Regions from separate parts of the Homo sapiens genome. Here region 2 is linked to region 1. A link means that fine-mapping ties the variant in region 1 to the expression of a gene that starts in the linked region. Tissue or cell type: whole blood. Region 1 holds a variant in brackets; the other region holds the start of a gene. All regions are shown on one strand. Distances are from middle to middle.

The links. PIP is the estimated chance that this variant, and not a neighbour inherited with it, causes the effect.
Region 2: it holds the start of FCER2, and the variant in region 1 is fine-mapped to the expression of FCER2 in whole blood (TOPMed, PIP above 0.99).

The regions. Positions count from the first base shown.
Region 1 is chr19:7,748,060-7,756,318 of GRCh38, forward strand. It overlaps the pseudogene RPL21P129. Among named protein-coding and RNA genes, the nearest start is that of CD209, 4.7 kb to the left of the region's middle. RefSeq lists promoters at 1-780, 1-493, 1-560, 1-1,107, 1-727 and 1 more, a cis regulatory region at 323, an enhancer at 543-1,044 and a silencer at 824-1,118. The variant C/A (reference allele first, on the strand shown) is at 3,271.
Region 2 is chr19:7,698,761-7,706,760 of GRCh38, forward strand. It overlaps FCER2 (Fc epsilon receptor II), which reads right to left and starts at 3,371. Exons shown (of 11, transcript NM_001220500.2): 1 at 3,255-3,371; 2 at 979-1,085; 3 at 1-94. The coding sequence starts at 1,000. LOC105372262 (a long non-coding RNA gene) reads right to left here. Exons shown (of 5, transcript XR_936296.2): 2 at 7,485-7,734; 3 at 7,057-7,176; 4 at 6,032-6,142; 5 at 4,320-4,361. RefSeq lists enhancers at 1,085-1,154, 3,258-3,367, 6,736-6,805.

The sequences.
Region 1 (8,259 bases):
TAGATCATATGACCTCCATTATACAGATGAGGAAACTGAGGAGGCACTGCAAGTTTAGCTAACTGGCCCAAGGTCACACAGCTGGTAGATGGTGGGGCTGAGACTTGAACCCAGTCTGCCTCCACAGTGCATGCTGTTAACCAAAGAGTGAAATAGTATCAAAGAGGAAAGAAAAGATCCATAGCAGCTTTATTTAGAATGATCTGAAATTGGAACAACCCCGTGTCCACCAGCAGGTGAATGATAAAAAATATAATGGCATATTCAAAGATTGGAATACTATACAGCAATGAAAAAGCAAAGTACTAGTACATTTAATAACATAGATAAATCTCACAAAACAGTAAAAGGACCCAGACAGAGTGAGTACACACTGTAAGATTTGATTTTGTGTGAATTTTGAGAACAGGCAGAACTAACCTTTGAAGGAGACTCAGAATGGGAATTATCAGGAAGGAGCAGGTGGAGATTGACAACGGGGTTTCTGTATGCTGGAAATGTTCTATATTTTGATCATAGAGATGTGCATTTACCACATGTGTGTTAAATCTCAGTTTAAAGATGGAAAATACATACATGTATCATAATCAAATAGTGGTTTTCGACCTGATCTTTACTTTGTATTCTTTTTTAAAATGTTTTAATTTTAGAATAATTTTGGGTTTATAGCAAAGTTGCAAATGTAGGAAAGAGATTTCCCATATGTAAATCCCTCACCTAGGGATCCCTAATGTGAACCCAGTTTCTCCTAATGGTAACATTTCACATGGTAATGAGGTAGGAAACTGGAAGAACTTGTTTTCTGGCCACAACCCTGCAGACCCATACAGAATCTGGTCCAGATGAGATGATGTGAAGAAACCAGCAGGAACCAGCAGATGGCAACAAAAGCAATCCCTGGCTGCCTCATTGCTCGTGGGCATAAGATACTCCCTCCAGTGCCATGACTGTTTACCGATGCCATGGCAATGACCTAGAAGTTCCCACCTGTTTCCATGGAAACAACCTGGACATCTTCGCCCTTTTCCTTAAAACTTCTAAAGAACCTGCTCCTCAATTTGCATTGACCCACCCCTTAACTGACGTATAACTGAAAGTGAGTTGACATGAGTATAACTACAGCTGCCAAGAGCTTGTATGTTGTTGACTCTGGGTGCACTGCCTATGAGTTAGCCCTGCTTCACAAGGAGCAGTATCATTACATAAAAAATATCTGTCTAAGGCCAGGTATGGTGGCTCACGCCTGTAATCCTAACACTTTGGGAGGCTGAGGTGGGCGGATCACAGGGTCAGGAGTTCGAGACCCTCCTGGCTACATGGTGAAACCCCATCTCTTTTAAAAATACAAAAAAAATTAGCCAGGCATGGCACGTGTCTGTAGTCCCAACTACTCAGGGGGCTGAGGCGGAAGAATTGCTTGAACCTGGGAGGCAGAGGTTGCAGTGAGCTGAGACTGTGACAATGCACTCCAGCTTGGGCGAGAGAGTGAGACTCCATCTCAAAAACAAACAAACAAAACCGGTGGCTCACGCCTGTAATCCCAGCACTTTGGGAGGCTGAGGCGGGCAGATCACCTGAGGTCAGGAGTTCGAGACCAGCCTGAGCAACATGGTAAAACCCTGTCTCTACTAAAAATACAAAATTAGCCAGGCATGGTGGCTGATGCCTGTAATCCCAGCTACTCGGGAGGCTGAGGCAGGAGAATCACTTGAACCTGGAAGGCAGAGGTTGCAGTGAGCCGAGACTGCAATACTGCACTCCAGCCTGGGCGACAGAGTGAGACTCCATGTCAAAAACAAACAAACAAACAAACAAAAGGTGGCTCACGCTTGTAATCCCAGCACTTTGGGAGGCCAAGGCAGGCAGATCACCTGAGGTTGGGAGTTCAAGACCAGTCTGACCAACATGGAGAAACCCTGTCTCTACTAAAAATACAAAATTAGCCAGGCATGGTGGCTGATGCCCATAATCCCAGCTACTCAGGAGGCTGAGGCAGGAGAATCGCTTGAACCTGGGAGGCAGAGGTTGCGGTGAGCTAAGATCGTGCCATTGCCTTCCAGCCTGGGCAACAAGAGTGAAACTCTGTCTCAAAAAAAAAAAAAATCTCTGTCTGACATCACTGGCTCACCCTTGAATTCTTTCCAGAGCGAAGCCAAGAACCCTCCCCAGCTAAGCCCCAATTTTGGGGTTCACCTGTCCTGCAACATTTGGTGACCTTGAAGGAACAAAGACAGTGAGCAAGCGGCAGTGACTGGTGCAGCACTGCCGATCTGCCGATGGTGATCGCCAGTGAGACAGTGAGACAGTGGGGATCACTGAAGAATTAGTAAGACAGCAGAGACAGTGGCAATTGGTGATTGGCAGAGAGGTGAAACAGCAAGGGATGGCAAGACAGCAAGACGGCAACTGGTAAGGTGGCAAGAGGCGCCCGTCGGTGATAGGTCAGTGAGACAGAGAGGTGGTGATCAGAGAGTGGTGGAGTGGTGGCAAAGAAAGAAAGACAGAGAGGTGGTATATTAGTCTGTTTTCACGCTGCTTGATGAAGACGTACCTGAAACTGGGCAATTTGTAAGAAAAAGAGGTGCCTTTTGGCCGTAACTGCCATCTTCCAGTAATTTGCCAAAATGATGAACGCAAAGGGGAAGAGGAGAGGCACCCAATATATGTTCTCTAGGCCTTTTAGAAAGCATGGAGTTGTTCCTTTGGCCACGTATATGCGAATTTGTAAGAAAGGTGATATTGTAGACATCAAGGGAATGGGTACTGTTCAAAAAGGAATGGACCACAAGGGTTACCGTGGCAAAACTGGAAGAGTCTACAATGTTACCCAGCATGCTGTTGGCATTGTTGTAAACAAACAAGGGCAAGATTCATGCCGAGAGAATTAATGTGTGCATTGAGCGCATTAAGCATGCTAAGAGCTGAGATAGCTTCCTGAAATGTGTGAAGGAAAATAATCAGAAACAGAAAGAAGCCAAAGAGAAAGGTACCTGGGTTCAACTGAAGCACCAGCCTGCTCCACCCAGAGAAGCATGCTTTGTGAGAACCAATGGGAAGGAGGCTGAGCTGCTGGAAACTCTTCCCTATGAATTCATGGCATCAGAGGTGTTAAAAAAATAAAAGACCTCTGGATTGTGAAAAAAAAAAAAAAAAGAAAAGAAAAGAAAAGAAAGAAAGAAAGAAAAAGAGGTTTAATGGGCGGTTCCACATGGCTAGGGAGGCCTCACAATCAGGTGGAAGGCAAAAGGTAAGTCTTACATGGCAGCAGAC[C/A]AGAGCGAATGAGACAGCCAAGCAAAAGGGGTTTCCCCTTATAAAACCATCGGGTCTCATGAGACTGACTCACTACCACGAAAACAGTGTGGAGGAAACTGCACCCATGATTCAATTATCTCCCACTGGGTTCCTCCCACAACACGAGGGAATTATGGGAGCTACGATTCAAGGTGAGATTTGGGTAGGGACACACCCAAACGATATCAGATGGTGATCAGCGGTCAGCAGGATGATGATTGGTGAGACGGAGAGGCAGCAGTTGACGAGAGACAGCAAGACAGCCATCAGCACTACGGTAATCAAAGCTGCAGAGCTGTAACACTAACCAAGGACTCTTTGAAGAACCATCATCTTCCCTAGCAGGCAATGGAGCTGAGCAGATGAACATTCGGCTGTAGTGCCATGTGATGTGGGACCAGCCACTCTGACCAGCAGGCCAATAGGCTACTGGTCCCCTGTGACAGCTGAGCTGGCCCAAGCTGGGAAACCTGGGCACCTGGCCTTGGTGGAGAAGACCTTCACCCAGGCCCTAAGTTGGAGACCAGTCAGTGCCATTTTGGCTCCTGGGGACAGGTGAGTGTCCCCTCTGCCCCCGCCTCCACAGTATTGTGTGAGCCAGGAAATAAGACTTTTGGCTAGATAGTCAATTCAAAGTCCCCTGTAGCACATCTGACCAACTACGTTCTTTTTTTTTTTTCTTTTTTTGAGGCGGAGTCTTGCTCTGTCGCCCAGGCTGGAGTGCAGTGGCGCGATCTCGGCTCACTGCAAGCTCCGCCTCCCGGGTTCACACCATTCTCCTGCCTCAGCCTCCCCAGTAACTAGGACTACAGGCGCCTGCCACCACGCCTGGCTAATTTTTTGTATTTTCAGTAGAGACGGGGTTTCACCGTGTTAGCCAGGATGGTCTCGATCTCCTGACCTGGTGATCCACCGGCCTCGGCCTCCCAAAGTGCTGGGATTACAGGCGTGAGCCACTGCGCCCAGCCCAACTACATTCTTATTACCCCTTTTCTTGGTCCTTCCTCCTCTAATGTCATTTTATTTTTCCATCAGCCGTTTATTTTATTTCATCTTGAAATGTATGTTTTGTTTACAGTTTTAGTTTTTTTGTTTTTGTTTATCATATGATATTACTTATCATGGATATTACTTATTACTTATCATCAGCCAAGCTTGATAACTTAGCTGAGGTACTGTTTGTCATGTTTCTCCCTATACAACATTATGATCAAATAAAGTTTTTTTGACAAACACATGGATGGCATCAGAAAATCTATTAATAATAGCATACCATCCGGGCACTGTGGCTCACATCTGTAATCCCAGCGCTTTAGGAGGCTGAGGTGAATGGATCACCTAAGGTCAGGAGTTCAAGACCAGCCTAGCTAACATGGTGAAACCCTATCTCTACTAAAAACACAAAATTAGCCAACACGGTGGCACATGCCTATAATCCCAGCTACTTGGGAGGCTGAGGCAGGAGAATCGCTTAAACCCGAAAGGCAGAGGTTGCAGTGAGCCGAGATTGTGCCATTGCACTCCAATTTGGGCTACAGAGTGAGACTCCATCTCAAATAATAATAATAATAATAAATCAAATAAACAATTTAAAGTAGAAAACCTACATATCACAGTAGATCAAATAAAAGGGTTCAATAAAACTCAACAGTGACTCATGATTTACATTTTTAAGTCTTCATCAACTAAGAGTAGAAGGAAATATCCTTAACATGGTTGTGGTATCCATCAAACCCACAGCAAACACCATTTCTACTGGAGAAACTTTAGAAGCATTCCCATTGAAATCAAGACAAATGAAAAGAAAATCCACAAACTTGCAAAAATATTTGCAAGACATATATAAAGAAATCATCCAGCCTGGGCAGCACCGTGAGATCTTGTCTCTACAAATAATTTAAAAATTTAGCCAAGCGTGGTGGTGCACACCTGTAGTCCCAGCTACTTGGGCAGCTGAGGTGGGAGATTGCTTAAGCTCAGGAGGTCAAGGCTGCAGTGAGCTATGATAGTGCCAGTGAGCTTCAGCCTGGGAAACAGAGCAAGACCCAATCTCAAAAGAAAAAAGAGACTCATATTCAAAGTAAGTAAAGAACTCCTAAAACCCAACAGTAAGAAAACAACAAACCTAGTTTAAAGATGAGCAAAAGTACAGATCAACAATGGAAAAACAACCCAATTAAAAATGGGCAAAGGACTTGACTAAACATTTTTCCAAAGAAGATATACAAGTGGCCAACGAGCACGTGAAAAGATGCTCGACATCACTAATCATTCAGGAAATGCAAATTAAAACCACAATGAGATACCACCTAACACCCACTAGGATGACTACTACAAAAAATAATAACGTGGCCGGGCACAGTGGCTCACGTCTGTAATCCCAGCACTCTGGGGGCCGAGGCGGGCAGATCATGAGGTCAGGAGATCGAGACCATCCTGGCTAACACGGTGAAACCCCGTCTCTACTAAAAATACAAAAAAATTAGCCGGGTGTGGTGGCGGGTGCCTGTAGTCCCAGCTACTCGGGAGGCTGAGGCAGGAGAATAGTGTGAACCCAGGAGGCAGAGCTTGCAGTGAGCCAAGATCATGCCACTGCACTCCAGCCTGGGCGACAGAGTGAGATTCCATCTCAAAAACAATAATAATAATAATAATATAATAACATAACAAATAATGGCAAAGATGTGGAGAAACTGGAACTCTTGTGCATTGTTGGTGGGAATGTAAAATGGTGCGGTCACCACAGAAAACAGTATGGCAGTTCCTAAAAAATAGAAATAAAAATTTCATTACATATAATCCAGCAATCCCACTTCTGGGTGTATACTCAAAACAATTGAAAGCAAGGACTGTTTTCTGTTTTATGGTGTAATTGTCTAGTTTTAGTCTTGGCGTAATGTGGGCCTGGTAGAATGAGTTAGGAAGAATTCCTTCCTCTTCAATTTTTTGGATTAGTTTGAGAATTTATGTTAGTTCTTTGTAAGTTTGGTAGAATTTAGCAGTGAAGTCATCCAGCCCTGGGCATTTCTTTGTTGGGAGGCATTTTACTTTGATTCAATCTCATTACTCATTATTGTTCTGTTTCAGGTTTTCTATTTCTTCCTGTTTCAATCTTGGTAGGTTGTCCAGGAATTTATCCATTTCCTCTAGGTCTTCTAATTTGGTTAGCATATAGTTGTTCATAATAGTCTCTGATGATTTTTTTTCTGTGTATTTCTGTGGTTTCAATCGTAATCTCTCCTTTTCAGTTCTGATTTTGTTTATTTGGGCCTTATCTCTTTTTTTCTTGGTTAGTCTAGATAGTGGTTTATCAATTTTGATTATCTTTTAAAAAAATTTCCTTTTGCTGATCCTCTGTTTTTGTTTTTGTTTTTGTTTTTAGTCTTTATTTCATTTAGTTCTGTTCTGGTTTGTGTTATTTCCTTCCATCTAATTTTGGGTTTGGTTTGGTTTTACATTCCTAGTTCCTTGAGGTGTATTCCTAGGTTGTTTATTTGAAATCTTTCTACTTTTTTGATGTAGGCATTTTGTGTGTTTTTTTGTTTTTAAGACGGCATCTCACTATGTTGCCTAGGCTGGTCTTGAACTCCTGGGCTCAAGCAAGCCTCTCACCTTGGCCTCCCAAGGTGCTGGGATTACTGGCATGAGCCACCGCACCCGGCCCTGATGTAGGCATTTATTGCTTTAAACTTTCCTTTTAGTGTTGCTTTTATTGTATCCCACAGATTTTGGTATGCTCTGTGTCCATTTTGATTTGTTTCAAGAATTTTTTTTATTTCTTTCTTAAGGTCTTCATTGACCCAGTGGTTGTTCAGGAGCATATGGTTTAATTTCCATGTATTTGTACAGTTTTCAGAGTTCCTCTTGTTATTAATTTGTAGTTTTACTCCATTGTGGTCTGAGAAGATATTTGATATAATTCTGATTTTGTAAAAAATGTGTTGTGGCCCAACATGTGATCTATTCTGGAGTATGTTCCATGTGCTGATGAGAAGAATGTGTGTGCTGCAGCTGTTGGATGAAATATTCTGCAAATATCTGTTAGGTCCATTTGGGCTAAATTGTAGTTTAAATCTGATGTTTCTTTGTTGATTTTTCTGTCTAGATTATCTGTCTCGTGCTGAGAGTGGGGTGTTGAAGCCCCAAACTATTATTGTATTGAAGTCTATCTCTCCCTGTAGATCTAATAAGATTTCCTTTATATATCTGGGGCTTTGGTGTTGGGTACACATATATTTAAAATTGTTATATCCTCTTGCTGAATCAATCCCTTTATCATTATATAATGACCTTCTTTGCCTATTTTTACTGTCTTTGACTTAAAGTCTGTTTTATCTGATATCAGTGTAGCTACTCCTGCTCACTTTTTGTTTCCATTTGTTAGAATTTCTTTTATCATCCTTTCACTTTTAGTCTATATGTGTTTTTTTTTTTAAGAGATGGGGTCTCACTCTGTTGCCTAGGCTGGAGTGCAGTGGCTATTCCCAGACACAATCAGCTCATTGCACCCTCAAAACCCTGGGCTCAAGCAATCCTCCTGCCTCAGCTCCTTGAGTAGTTTGGACTATAGACACATGCTATCATACCTGGCTAGCTTTACAAAAATTTTTTTAGAGATGCAGTCTTACCATGTGGCCCAGACAGGTCTCAAACTCCTGACCTCAAGCAATCATCCTTCTTCAGCCTCCTCCTGAGTATATATACGTGTCTTTACAGGTGAAGTGAGTTTCTTATAGACAGCATATAGTTGGGTCTTTTTAAAAAATTCATTCAGCCAGTCTATATCTTTTAAGTGGGAAATTTAATCCATTTACATTACAGGTTATTACTAATGTCTGAGGACTTATTCCTTTCCTTTTGTTAATTGTTTCCTGGTTGGTTTGCATATCTTTTGTTCCTTTCTTTCTCTCTTATTGTTTGTCGTTGTGGTTTGGTTGTTTTCTGTAGTGGTAACATTTGAGTCTTTTC
Region 2 (8,000 bases), 49 kb before region 1:
AGCAGCCCAGCCCACAGAGCGGCGGTCACCAGCCCCAGCAGCACGATCTGAGTCCCACGCCTGCAACACCGCCTCCTGGGAAGCTCCTCGATCTCTGCCGGGGGTGGAGGGACTGACTATGGGTGCAGGGTGAAGCTGGATGCTGGCCCTGTCCGTCTCTCCATTACCCAGAGCCCCCGACAGCCTGGGAGCTTGTCCAGAGCCCACACTGAAGCAAAGGGTCTCAGTGGACCCCCAGCTCCATTTGCACAGCTTCCTTACCTGACTCAGGGCTGGGTCACTGACCACAGAGACAGATCTGGGACTAAGAGCTAAGACTCCCTCAGCCCCAACAACCAATGCCAGGCCCCCAGCTTCACTTCCAGAAGACTAGGTCCTGCTTTTTCCTTCCCCTCTGAGCCCCAACGCCCACCCTTACACCTCTGCACCTGTCCCCAACCTGGAGTCCCTTCCCTAAACCCAGGACACTGAGTCCCAGTTCTTCCCCAACATCGGAGCCACTCCCCAGCCACTTTCCCAGGTGTCATCCAACATCCAGACCTCCAAACCTCTCCCAGACCCCACCCAAAGGTCTATCTGGATGTCCCACCTCAAGCCCCTGGCCCTCTGCACTCACCCTGGCTTGGAGGATTCATTATGCTAAATTCTGCTTGTTCCAAGTTCCTGTTCTATTTGGCCTCTGACTCTATTGGGCTCCCCGCTCCCTAGCTGAAGCCGTTTTTTTTTTTTTTTCTTTTTCTTTTTTTGTCAGGAGGGTGTTGAATCAGAAAAAGGAGGGGCCCTCAATTTGCCACTCCTTCCTGGCTCTGTGCCAGGAAAGTCAGTCCGGCCTCACCTCCTTACTCACACCAGTCCCTTTCTTAGAAATTCACCCTCTTTCCCAGAGAGGGACTGGGGAGCCCCGCTTCTCTTCTGGGTGAAAGGCAGTAGCTAAGGGTCATTGCTTCTGCCAACGTTAGAACCAGAGAGTCCTCCTACCTGAATATTGACCTTCCTCCATGGCGGTCCTGCTTGGATTCTCCCGATGATGGAGCACTCACTCCCTGACAACGCAGTCCACTCAGCGGGCACAATCACAGCTCTGGCTGATTTGGGATTTAATGATGGTTAGGGTGAGCCATCAAATCCTAGTTACCAGCACAGGATAGCATCTGGGACTTGGTGGCACTCAGGGGCCATTTGCTGATTTTGTTTAGTCTACAATCTGGACTCACTAGCGTGGTTAGCAGGGAGACACAGCTGGTGTGGAGAGATAGCAGCCTGAGATCAGAAGTGGGGCACTCCAGAGCCCATCACACTTGAGCTACACAGCAGGTGCACCCATGAGATCTTGACAAATGGCTTAATTAACCTGGAAACTTCTTTCCTCATTCGTAAAATGATGATACCAAGAACACCTATACTGTTGGTTGGTGATCTGTGCTAAAAATATCACCAGCGTTTATTATAATTGCCTTGCCTGTGTGACCTCAGCCAAGGATTCAACCATTCTCAGCCTCAGTTTTCCCCTCTGTAAAATGGGCTGATGACAGCACCCAACTCATGAGGCCAAGATAGGATCCAATGAGATCACAGCATACCTGAGGTTTTTGGTGCCGGGCTGCGCACAGTGGGTCTTCGGATTCTAAACATTTATGAAACATCTACTCTGTGCCACGTCCCACTGAGAAATGCTAAGAGCCCATAACCCAGGCCTCAGCCTTCTCCTCTGCCAATGTCCCCAGGGCATCTGTAAAGTGCTCTGACTTTATTTATTTATTTATTTATTTATTGAAATGGAGTCTCGCTCTGTTGCCCAGGCTGGAGTGCAGGGGCACGATCTCGGCTCACTGCCACCTCCACCTCCTGGGTTCAAGCGATTCTCCCGCCTCAGCCTCCCGAGTAGCTGGGACTATAGGCACGTGCCACCATGACCAGATAATTTTTGTATTTTTAGTAGAGACGGGTTTTCACTATGTTGGCCAGGCTAGTCTCAAACTCCTGACCTCATGATCCGCCCGCCTCGGCCTCCCAAAGTGCTGGGATTACAGGCGTGAGCCACTGTGCATGGCCTATTTTTTTATTTTTTGAGATGGAGTCTCGCTCTGTCACCCAGGCTAGAGTGCAATGGCACCATCTTGGCTCACTGCAACCTCCACCTCCCGGGTTCAAGCGATTCTCCTGTCTTAGCCTCCCAAGTAGCTGGGACTACAGGCACCCACCACCACACCTGGCTAATTTTTGTATTTTAGTAGAGACAGGGTTTCACCATATTGATCAGGCTGGTCTCGAACTCCTGACCACAGGTGATCTGCCCTCCTCAGCCTCCCAAAGTGCTAGGATTACAGGCGTGAGCCACTGCGCCCGACCAAGTCCTCTGACTTTAAAGCATCTACTATGTGCTGAGGAGCATGGGACTTGGGGTCCTTCAGGCCTGGAGGTCACGGGCTACCTTCTTTCGCTGCTTGACTATAGGTAAGTCCCTTCTCTCGGAGCCTCAGGGAGGTGGGGTGTGGCGCGGCCAGGCTCTGATTAGCGGCAGCTCAAGCTGGCCCTTTTGACATTGTGAGAGGAACCCAGAGACCATCCTGGGACTGGAACTGTCCAGGGAGGCAGCTGGACAGACCTGAGTCCGAGTCCTGGCTTCTTCCTGGATGAGCAGCTCAGTTTGCTCATCTGTAAATTGGGAGTATTCAAAGCACCAGCACACAGTAGGTGCTCAGTAAACCTACTGGCAGGATGCTGGGGGACTGTCCTCATTCTGTGGGGCCTCTCTCAGTGGAACTGAGGTTCCAAGAGGGTAAGTCATTTGTCCCCATCACGCAGTGGTGGGACTGGAACTCAAACCCGGGACCCTTGAGCTGGGAGCCCATTTGCTCAATCATCTGGAGACATAATCTCATGGTGGGGTGTCTACTGGTAAGTGCTGGGTGGCAGGATCCCAACTCCAGGCCGTCCTTCTAACCCAAGAGGTCCTGCCTCTGCCTAGAGTCTTCCATGGCTCCCCAGGGCCCTCTATGATCGGCCCAGCGCACTCACCAAGCTCATCTCAGACCAGATGGCCTGCTTTCACTTCCCCAAATCAGGGACTCGAATGCCTCGAGATTCTGTCCACACTGCGGCCCCCACCCCCGCCCCCTCACCACCCACCACCTCCCTTCTCTGGTTGTGACCTCCTGCTGGTCATCCCTTGAGGCTCAGCCCAAGGTCGTTTCTTCCAAGGGCGCTTTGATCTCCACTTCCCATGGCCAACCCCCAACACACCAGATACGTACTCACTTAGTGGAGTTTGGAGCCTGTGTCTGTCCTCCTAGTGTGTTGGGGTCGACCAGAGCGATTGGCAGGGACCGTCAGAGACAGAGGTTTAAGCAGGAAGAGAGACACTTTCTTCTGAAAGTAGAGCCACTGACAGCTTCTATTTTCATAGACCTAAATATGGGCTTGCCACCCGGATAACATTACACGCATGGCCTCTCCTGGTGCTCCCCACACCCGGGTGAAGTCCGTGTTATTATTATCTCCATTTCTCAGGTAAGAGAATTGGGTGAGAACTAGAGATGTTAAGCAGCAAGTTCCCACAGGGCTGAAGGAGGTGAGTGGTAGCGTCAAGATGTGAACCACTGTTACTGCACACTGAATCATACCACTATGGCCGATCACAGAGGGCCCTGGGGAGCCACGGAAGGCTCTAGGCAGAGGCAGGGCCTCTTGGGTTAGAAGGACGGCCTGGAGTTGGGATCCTGCCACCCGGCACTTACCAGCAGACACCCCACCATGAGATTATGTCTCTTGATGATTGAGCAAATAGGCTCCCAGGTCAAATGTCCCAGGTTTGAGTCCCAGCAAGAAAAAAGGGAAGAGGAGAGAGAGGCAGAGGAAGGGGAAAAAAAAGACAGAAGGAAGGAGAGGGAGAAGGAGGAGTAGGAGGGAAGGAGGGAAGCGGGGGGAAAGAAAGATACGTGAGATAATATTCAGGTCAAATATGGACAGTTTTGGCTGGGCACGGTGGCTCACGCCTGTAATCCCAGCACTTTGGGAGGCTGAGGTGGGAGGATCACTTAAGCCTGGGAGTTCAAGACCAGCCTGGACAACATAGCAAGCCGTTGTCTCTACAAAAACTATAAAAACTAGCAGGGCATGGTGGTGCATGCCTGTGATCCCAGCTACTGGGGAGGCAGAGGTGAGTGGATCACTTGAGCCCAGGAGTTCAAGATCAGCCTGGGCAACACAGTGAGATGAAAGAAAGAAAGAGAGAGAGAAAGAGAGAGAGAGAGACCGGGCACAGTGGCTCACGCCTGTAATCCCAGCACTTTGGGAGGCCGAGGCAGGTGGATCATCTGAGGTCAGGAGTTCAAGGCCAACATGGTGAAACCCTGTATCTACTGAAAATACAAAAAAAAAAAAAAAAAAAAAAAAATTAGCTGGGCATGGTGGTGGGCACCTGTAATCCTAGCTACTCGGGAGGCTGAGGCAGGAGAATCGCTTGAATCCGGGAGGCAGAGGTTGCGGTGAGCCGAGATCGCGCCATTGCATTCCAGCCTGGGCAACAAAAGCTAAACTCTGTCTCACAAAAAAAAAAAAGAAAAGAAAAAAGAAAGAAAAACAGAAAAGAAACACCAAACTCCATCCCAGCCCCATCCTGGAACTAAGACTTCATCCCCATGTCCTCACAACATGGCCCAGCTGGACTTATTCCCAAGCTTCCTCCTCCTTCTCCTCGTGTGTCCCCATTGGTGGGACAGTCCGTCCATCCACCCAGACACCCCGGCCCAGGTCCAGGCCTTGTCCAAGCACTTCCCGATCTTCCACCCCACCGCTCACCCAGCACCCGCGCCTGGCTCGTCTCAAAAAAATAACCTGCTTCTCCCCATCCCCACAGCTGCTCCCTCTTCCCCCTGGACCAGGTGACATCCCCCTCTTAGGGTTCCCCCTGCCTGGTTTGCCTTGTCCCTGGGACTGCCTCCTCCATGGCCTCCCCACTCTCATCCTGCCCCCATGACAGCCTTCCCTGGGGCTCTACCTCCTGTCTTGCCCCCCAAAACAGACCCTCCAGGGTCCTCACTCCCACCTGGCCACCACGGCAGACCCCCCCTTAGGATCCCCAACCCGACCTGCCCTCAAGACTAATCCCCCAGTGACCCCACCCTGGCTTGGCCTCAAATGCTGTCCCTATGTCCACTCAGCAGCCCCCAGCCACCTCTCCAATGCTCAGCGGCCAACTCTTTCCCTTCCTTTTTGATTTTTTTTCTTTTTTTGAGACAGAGTCTTGCTGTGTCATCCAGGCTGGAGTACAGTGGCATGATCTCAGCTCCCCATAACCTCTGCCTCCCCGGATTCAAGTGATTCTCCTGCCTCAGCCTCCCAAGTACCTGGGATTACAGGCACGCGCCACTACACCTGGCTAATTTTTTGTATTTGTAGTAGAGATGGGGTTTCACCAAGTTGACCAGGCTGGTCTTGAACTCCTGGTCTCAAGTGATCCACCCACGTCGGCTTCCCGAAGTGTTGGGATTACAGGCATGAGCCACCGCACCCGGACCCTCCCTCACTTCTTTACCATCTTGGTCCTCGGCCATTACCCCAGATCAAGGTGGAGGGGACATTTTGGGACCCAAAATGAACAGCCTCAGACCACCAGAGTCAGTCATTCACTCAACAGGCATGCACCAAGGGTCACTCGGTCCAGGGTGACAGACAAGGCAGCATGGTCCCAGCTGTTCTGGAGTGCAGGGTCCAGGGGACATTTCAGCCAGGCCCCTCCCTGACACAGTGGGAACGTCCAGCCCTAGTGGATGGCCCAGCCCAGCCCCCTCCTGGTTGGGAGGTGGGTTGTAGGGGCACAGGGGGGTGTCTTCTGGAGTGAGAGACATGGGAGGTAGCCCACCCAGGAGTGGGGATTTGGAGTTCCCCAGTTGAGAGTGGGGAGGGTGTTAAGGATCAGGGGACACATTTTGGGAAGGATGAGGAGGGTGGGCAAAGTGCCAAGGGGTCTTAGTATATAGAAGTCTAGGTGGCATAGTGGCTAGGGCTGCAGATGCCTGACCCACACTACCTGTGTTCAAATTCCTGGTTCTTCCATTGAAGTGCTGTGTGACCTTTGGCAAGTCACCTAACCTCTCTGTGCTTCACATAAGGCAGCATTGATCACCAAAGCATCTAATTCCTAGGGTGGTGGTGAAAATTAGATGTGTTAATATGCACACAAGTCACTAAGAACTGTGTCCGGCTGGGCGTGGTGGCTCATACCTGTCATCCCAACACTTTGGGAGGCTGAGGCGAGTAGATCACCTGAGGTCAGGAGTTTGAGACCAGCCTGGCCAACACAGTGAAACCCCGTCTCTACCGAAAAGTGCAAAAATTAGCCAGAAGTGGTTCCAGGTGCCTGTAATCCCAGCTACTCGGGAGGCTGAGGCAGGAGAATTGCTTGAACCTGGGAGGCGGAAGTTGCAGTGAGCTGAGATTGCGCCATTGCACTCCAGCCTGGGCGATCCCAAAAAACAAACAAACAAACAAATTCCTGTGCCCAGCAACCATTGCTACTAAATTAAACTATACAACAAAATTGTCCATATTTTTTTTTAGAGACAGGGTCTCGCTCTGTCTCCCAGGCTGGAGTGCAGTGGTGCGATCTCGGCTCACTGCAGCCTCAACCTCCTGAGGTTCAAGAGATCCTCCTACTTTCTCCTCCTGAGTAGCTGGGACCACAGGCACGCACCACCACGCCTGGTTAATTTTTTAAATTTTTGGTAGCGATGGGGTCTCACTATGTTGCCCAGGCTGGTCTCAAACTCCTGGGCTCAAGTGATCCTCCTGCCTCAGCCTCCCAAAGTGCTGGGATTACAGGCATGAGTCACTGTGCCCAGCTGGAATTTGGTGTTTCTGAGTTCTACAAGCCCAGGTGCCCCAGCCCAACCCCACCGGCCCCATCATGTCCTTCCCAGGGGTGAAAGCCCCCTGCCTGCTGGGTTCCTGCCAAGACTCAGCTCAAACACTAGGATGCTTTGGGGCCCCAAGGACCCAGTCACGGGACTGCCCCACCCGCTTCCCCTCTGCGGTATTAATACGCCTCTTGCTCACTTCGGGGGAAAAACAGAAAATTGTGCGGATGTGGGCCCCAGATCTGTGGGTGTCGGTTCTTCTTTCAGATTTGGGATCCTCTGCATGTTGGGGGAGGCCGCGTCTCGCTCCTCGTTTGACCTAGGTCAGAATTCAACAGGAAGGAGTTTAGGGTGTCCAGCAACAACAACCCTCAACCATCTCCAGCTGAGCTCTCATCCCAGCCCCGGCCCTGACCGTAACCCCAGCTCAACTACAACTTGATCCCCTCACCCCACGATGCTCTGATCCCAGCCCTAACCTCTGCTCTGCACAGGACGGAGGCACGTCCGCGGCTCTAATCACAGAACCCCCACACCTGGGACAGGGCCTGGCGCTGTGTCCCAACGAGATGGAGCCTGGCGACCCTGACTCTAACCCCATCCCGACACAGCCCTGGGCTTTCCTACCTGTTTAACCTCTCCTGGGGTTACGAAGGGGAGAAGGAAAGGGTGCAGGGGTGGGGAGGAAGGGCAGTAGGTGTGTCAAATCCAGGGGGGCTTCCAGGAGGAGGTGTGTTCAAAGCTGGGTCTCTCCCACCCTGCACTGTTGACTTTGGGACTGATGATTCCTCGCTGGGATGCTGTCCTGTGCATTGTTGGATGTTTAGAAGCATCTCTGGCCACTAGTCGCCGAAAGAGTCACCGTGGTTGAGAAGCGCTGCTTTGAAAACATGATTCCTAGATCACGCTTTATTTTGTTTTCATTGTGGCAAAATATACATAACATAAAATTTACCATCGTAGCCATTTCTAAGTGCACCATTCAGGAGCATGAAACACATTCACACTGTTGTGCAACCATTACCACCATCCGTCTCCGGAACTTTCTCATCTTCCCAAACTGAAACCGTGTCCCCATGAAACACTCACTCCCTATTTACCCAACTCCAGCCCCCATGAGAGCTCCCCTTAGGGTCCTCACCC